2 linked regions of the Homo sapiens genome follow. The protein of the gene in region 1 interacts with the protein of each later gene in a pairwise test. Each region holds a gene or a part of one and is shown in the gene's direction. Other genes may lie near its edges.

Region 1 (3,343 bases):
AATAGCAAGAGCACAGATATAAAGTTGTAAAAAAAAGGACAATGAGTTAGAGTGACTATTGTTTTAGTCCGTTCTCATGCTACTAATAAAGACATATGTGAGACAGGGTAATTTATCAAGGAAAGACGTTTAATTGACTCATAGTTCAGCATGGCTGGGAAGGCCTCGGGAAACTTACAGTCCTGACAGAAGGGGAAGCAAACACGACCTTCTTCACATGGTGGCAGGAGAAAGAATGACAGTCAAGCAAATGGGGAAGCCCCTTATAAAACCATCAGATCTCATGAAAACTTACTATCACAAAGACACGGTGGGGGAAACCACCCCAATGATTCAATTGTCTCCATCTGGTCCCTCTCATTACACGTGGGGATTATGAGAACTATAATTCAAGGTGAGATTTGGGTGGGGACACAGCCAAACCATATCAACTATGAAAAGCAAAACTATAATGATAGAACTTCTATACACATTTGAGGAAACACTTAAAATTATTGAAACTAAACAATTAACACATTTCAAGATAAAAATGCATAAGCTTATTTCAAAACATCAGAAAACACAAATATACTTTTAATGCTAATAAAGTTATTTAAAAATCACTTTGTTGTGAGAACACTTAAAATCTACTCTCTCAGCAATTTTCAAGAATACAATACATTGTTATTAACTATAGTCACCGAGTTGTACAATATGTCTCTTGAACTTATTCCTCCTATTATAACTATTATAACTGAAGTTTCATATCTTTTGACTAACAACTACCCAATTCCTCTACTTTCCCCCACCTTACCTGCTGATAACTACCATTCTACTCTCTACTTCTATGAGTTCACCATTTTTACATTCTACATACAAAGGAGATCATGAGGTATCTGCCTGTGTTTGGCTTATTTCACTAAGTATAATGTCCTCCAGGTTCAACATAGGGGAAGCAATATGTATGCTAATTACCCTGATTTAGCCATTTCAAAATGTATACATATTTCAACACAACATATTGTTAATAAATATATGCAATCATTTATTTGCCAATCAAAATAAAAAAATAAACAATATATGAAATGAATAAATTTATGGTATGAAAACTAAACTGAAATAAAATTATTTGATCTTTTATTAAATGTGGTCTTAAGCAACAAAATGTGTCAGTGGTATCATTGCTGACTTGTGAGTGGGTTTTTTGTGCAACATTTTCCAACTTTTTAAAAAGTTTTTTAATTCTATAATAGTTGTGGTAATATTTTCATCCACCTTCTTCCTGTAAATAATTGTATCTGTCATTTACTAATTTGAGAAGCTCTTTCCGTGTAAGTGGATTGTTTGTTTCTCTGGAACTGCAACTGGTTTAACCAACATATTTTTTAAAGAAGGCATTTTGAATTAGTTTTTAATCTTCTTTGGTATCAATATCAAGTTTCATACTGCCATGGTCATAGTTTGTGTATTCTGCAAGTCTTTGAACTGTAGTAAAATTTATTCTTGTGACATAAGCTTTCCCTTGTCAATTGCCTTTCTCTTCTTCCTGTTGAGGATGATGGTGGTAAGAAGAATGCTTTCTAAATGGTTATGTCTTTTATTTGAAATTTTAACGTGATATGTGGATAATGAATAGTATTGTTCTGGAATTTTCCAACATAAATTGAATATTTGATCTTTATCTCATTATTTAAAGAATTCAGAAATAATTATATGCATACAAACCCACAGTTAGATAAAGGAAATAAGTTCTAATGTTTAACATAGGATGACTATAGTTAACAGCAATGTATTGTATATTTCAAAGTAGATTGAAGGAGGACTTGAAATGTTCTCAACACATGGAAATAATAATTATTCTGGATGATGAAAACTATGACTTGATCATTAAACATTCTATGCACATAACAAAATATTACACATTTTTTACAAATATTATGTATCAATAAAAAAGAAATAATTGTGATACACCAATAAAACTACCAATATTTTATTACTTAGAAATATCACAGTATAAAATTATATGTAATCATAAAATATAAGGATGTGTTTTATTTCCTTTTTCCTAATGATAACAGGATATGACAGATGACCTTGATCACTATACCAATACTTACCAAATCTACTCCAAAGATCCCCAAAACTGTCAGGAATTCCTTGGATCACCAGAACTCATCAACTGGAAACAGCATTTACAGATTCAAAGTAAGTAAGAGGAATGGGATGTGTGCTGACTCACTTATGTGTCCTGAGCAAGTTTTCATATGACTTATACCTCCTTCCTCCAAGCTCCAGACTCCCAGCCTGCTGTCAATTTTGTTACTGTGTGGTAACTATATCTGTAAAAGGTGGTGGACAGCGTGGGAAACCCTAAAATTTGCAAAGAATGGGCTTCATAAAGGGAACTATAGTATAATTCCTTGGTACCAAGGATTTATGACATATTTTGCAGCTGTATCCAGACCTTTTAGGGTGATTGGATGCTGAAGAAGAGCCTTCCCTCTGGACTTCTATTCCTGTAATAAAAATGATAGCTTATTTGGCCATAGAATACTTCCCAGGTCACCAAGAACAACTATCATGGTTCCAACTATGCTCTCTGGAGATTCTCTAGGATGGCATTTGCCTATTACTTGCTGTATAATCTTAGTTAAGTGATTTAATCTCTCTGAGATTATGTTCCTCATATATAAAAATGAGGAAAATAATGTTACCTAAAACACAAGGCACTGAAAAGATTAAATGAAAGTGACTAGGAAGTGCTTAGCATAATACTTAGACATATTAGTTAATGTTTGCTGCATAGCAAACCTAATAATTCTGTGAATCAACCATTTGGGCTGAGCTTTGCAAGGCAGTTCTTCCACTGGTCTTATCTGGGTTTACTCATGTAGCTGTAGTTGATGGGTGGACCATGGCTGATTGCTCTTACACGGCCTCACTCACATGCCTGAATGAGAGTTCTGCTGTTAGTTCATGACAGCTGGTGACTGTGGTGACAGCATGATGGCAACATGTGTCGCTAGCAGGCTGGCCCAGGCCTATCTTAATGGTATTGGTCTTAACATAATTGGTCTTAACCAGGAGCAAAAACAAAGGGAAAGCCCCAATGGGGCAGGCACTTTTAAGCCTCTCCTTGCATTAAATTTGCTCTTTCCATTGATGAAAGATGGTCAATGTGGCCAAGGTAAGTTGCAGCAGAGGAGGGGACTATCTGGGGAATGGATTCCAGGAGATATGTGCAAATCATGGGTCATTGCCTCATATTATTACACTAGGAATGTAGCTTAGTAGATGTTACCTACCGTTTTTTAAATTTACCTACTAGGATTATCAAAATTGCTACACAATTACGCAGCCCAGA
Region 2 (3,500 bases), on another chromosome or scaffold:
TTTTACTTTCTTAACCACTTCCTTATGCTACCCATGAAACCTAGTTGGGGCTCTGTTGTGTGTGATTTCCCCTGGCTTATTCTTTACTTTTTCCTCCTTTTCCAGGCTCAGCAGGGAGCTGCTGGAGGTAGTAGAGCCTGAAGTCTTGCAGGACTCACTGGATAGATGTTATTCAACTCCTTCCAGTTGTCTTGAACAGCCTGACTCCTGCCAGCCCTATGGAAGTTCCTTTTATGCATTGGAGGAAAAACATGTTGGCTTTTCTCTTGACGTGGGAGGTGAGTACCTTTCTATGAAGGTGATAAGCATCCACTGAGTCTTCCATATAAAGATCATATTCCTGCTCCAAGTGGCCATTACTGAGCTGAGAGATGTCATTGCCGCAGTGAGGACCTATAGGCACATGTAGGTTGAATGAAACTCTAGTTCTACCTGGAAGCCCAGACATGGGATGGGTCAGTGAGCATGGCTCTCTTCCTAGTCTCAGGCCATACCTGTGGCACTCTGATTCTACTCTCATGACATTGGACCTGGGCAGATGTGACAAATTCAGAGAACTATGATTTTGACTCAAGGGTTTGTAGATTTCCTTTTTCACTCTAATTTCAGTGTCTAAAGTCCTCACAACCATGAACAATCTGAGTATTTGATGAGACAGGGCTAAATATTGCAGTTTTTCTCCCAGAAATCATTTGAGGGTATTTGCTTTAAATTGATTGGAAAAATATGGCATAACTGTTTGCACAAACTTGGGACAAATGATATTGGGATAACGATCTACTAGAATAGGGACATTTTACCCACAGTTTCTGGGAGAAAAACCGAGGAATTTCTATCATGACCAGCCTTCAGGCCTCCTGAAATATATCTCTCACAGTGTCCTATTCTTATGCTGAGGAGCCTGAGGTCCCTGTGTGAGGATTAGACAGTGGATTGTTATGTGTGTAGGGGAATCAGCTTAATGTGTCTGTCCATGTCTGAATTTATTGCAGAAATTGAAAAGAAGGGGAAGGGGAAGAAAAGAAGGGGAAGAAGATCAAAGAAGGAAAGAAGAAGGGGAAGAAAAGAAGGGGAAGAAGATCAAAACCCACCATGCCCCAGGTGACTTTCAGCAATTGTGGATGCTTAATTCTGTGTTAACACCTGGAGGCAACAGATTCAGGGAAACCAGAGTGTGTTTGATGTCATGTTTTCAACGAAGGCTGAATTACTCCTACTGTCATTGCTGTTGGTTTTCATTGCAGTAGATGTTTAGGTTTCCATTTCTTCCTCCCCTTATCATTTACTAGCGTACCATAGGTTGACCATACTTCAAAAGCTGTACTCTCATGGCCACTGCATCGAATTTTGAGCATATTTTATGGAAAACTATTGAGCTCACTCTTTTCATGATCACAGTTTGCTGTGTGTCATGAGGGCACTAACTCAGAGTGTCCTTTTACTCCCTTACCAGTATGTCACCTGGCCAATTCACTAGGTCACTTTCTCTCTGTCTCTGTCTCTGTCTCTCTCTCTGTCTCTGTCTCTCTCTCTCTCTCTGTCTTTCTCTTTCATTGTTTTCTACCTGGCCCTGTTCTATCCCAACATAAAGGCAATAATTTGTTACCTCATTAATGGATCTGTCCTTTTTCTTTTCAAACTCTTCCTTAACGTTAGCCATGAAATCTAGCTGGGGCTGTGTGGTTTCTGATTCCCCCTGGCTTATTCTTTACTTTTTCCCACTTTTCCAGGCTCAGCAGGGAGCTGCTGGATGAGAAAGGGCCTGAAGTCTTGCAGGACTCACTGGATAGATGTTATTCAACTCCTTCAGGTTGTCTTGAACTGACTGACTCATGCCAGCCCTACAGAAGTGCCTTTTACATATTGGAGCAACAGTGTGTTGGCTTGGCTGTTGACATGGATGGTGAGTACCTTTCTATGAAGGTGATAAGGATCCACTGAGTCTTCTGGTTAGGGTCATATTCCTACTGCAAGTGGCCCTTACTGAGCTGAGAGATGTCATTGCCACAGGGAGGACCTATAGGCACATGTAGGTTGAATGAAACTCTAGTTCCACTTGGCAGCCCAGACAAGGGATGGGTCAGTGAGCAAGGCTCTCTCCCTAGTCTCAGGCCATGCCTGTGGAGCCCTAATCCTACTCTCATGACACTGGACCTGGGCAGATGTGACAAATTCACACAACTCTGATTTTGTCTCAATTTTGTAGATCTTGTAGATTTCATCCTTCACTCTAATTTCAGCGTCTAAAATCCTCGCTACCATGAACAATCTGAGTATTTGATGAGACAGGGCTGAATAGTGCAGTTTTTCTCCTAGCAACCATTTGGGGGTATTTGCTTTAAATCGATTGGAAAAATATGGCATAACCATTTGCACAAACTTGGGACAAATGATATTGGGATAACGATCTACCAGAATAGGGAATTTTACCCACAGTTTCTGGGACAAAAACCAAGGAATCTCTATGGTGATCAGCCTTCAGGCCTCCTGAAGAATATCTCTCACAGTGTCCTATTCTCATGCTGAGGAGCCTGAAGTCCCTGTGTGAGGATTAGACAGTGGATTGTTATGTGTGTAGGAGAACCAGCTTCATATGTCTGTCCATGTCTGAACTTATTGCAGAAATTGAAAAGTACCAAGAAGTGGAAGAAGACCAAGACCCATCATGCCCCAGGTAACTTTGAGCAATTATGGATGCTTAATTCTGTGTTGACACCTGGAGATGCCAGGTCCAGGGAAAACAAGAGTGTGTTCAATTTCATGTTTTCAACGAAGGTTGAATTACTCCTACTGACATGGCTGTTGGTTTTCATTGCAGTAGATGTTTAGGTTTCCATTTCTTCCTCCCCTTAACATTTACTAACTTACTATAGGTTGACCATACCTCAAAGGCTGTATGGCAACTGCATGGAATCTTGAGCAAGTTTATGGAAAATTATTGAGCCCACTCTTTTCATGATCACTGTTCGCTGTGTGTCCCGAGGGCACTAACTCAGAGTGTCCTTTGACCCCTTCATCAGTGTGTCACCCGGCCAACTCGCTGAGCTCACTTTCTCCTCTCTCTCTCTCTCTCTCTCTCTCTCCCTCTCCCTGTCTTTCTCTTTCATTCTTTTCTACCTGGCCCTGGTCTATCCCAACATAAAGGCAATAATTCATTACCTCATTAATGGATCTGTCCTTTTTCTTTTTAAACAGTTCCTTATGTTAGCCATGAAATCTAGCTGGGGCTGTGTGGTTTCTGATTCCCCCTGGCTTATTCTTTACTTTTTCCTACTTTTCCAGGCTCAGCAGGGAGCTGCTGGCTGAGAAAGAGCCTGAAGTCTTGCAGGACCCACTGGATAGATGTTATTCGACTCCTTCAGGTTATCTTGAACTGCCTGACTTAGGCCAGCCCTACAGCAGTGCTGTTTACTCATTGGAGGAACAGTACCTTGGCTTGGCTCTTGACGTGGACAGTGAGTACCTTACTATGAAGGTGATAAGCCTCCACCTGGTCTTCC

What was found.
Region 2: the proteins of GLYAT (region 1) and NBPF19 interact in a two-hybrid assay, tested with the Homo sapiens proteins (one large-scale study listed by BioGRID).

What each region holds. Positions count from the first base shown.
Region 1 is NC_000011.10:58,711,601-58,714,943, reverse strand, and holds part of GLYAT (glycine N-acyltransferase), read left to right. Parts: intron 1-2,057; coding exon 2,058-2,184; intron 2,185-3,343. UniProt on the Homo sapiens protein: Mitochondrial acyltransferase which transfers an acyl group to the N-terminus of glycine and glutamine, although much less efficiently.
Region 2 is NC_000001.11:149,548,045-149,551,544, forward strand, and holds part of NBPF19 (NBPF family member NBPF19), read left to right. Parts: intron 1-105; coding exon 106-278; intron 279-992; coding exon 993-1,101; intron 1,102-1,730; coding exon 1,731-1,903; intron 1,904-2,622; coding exon 2,623-2,674; intron 2,675-3,282; coding exon 3,283-3,455; intron 3,456-3,500.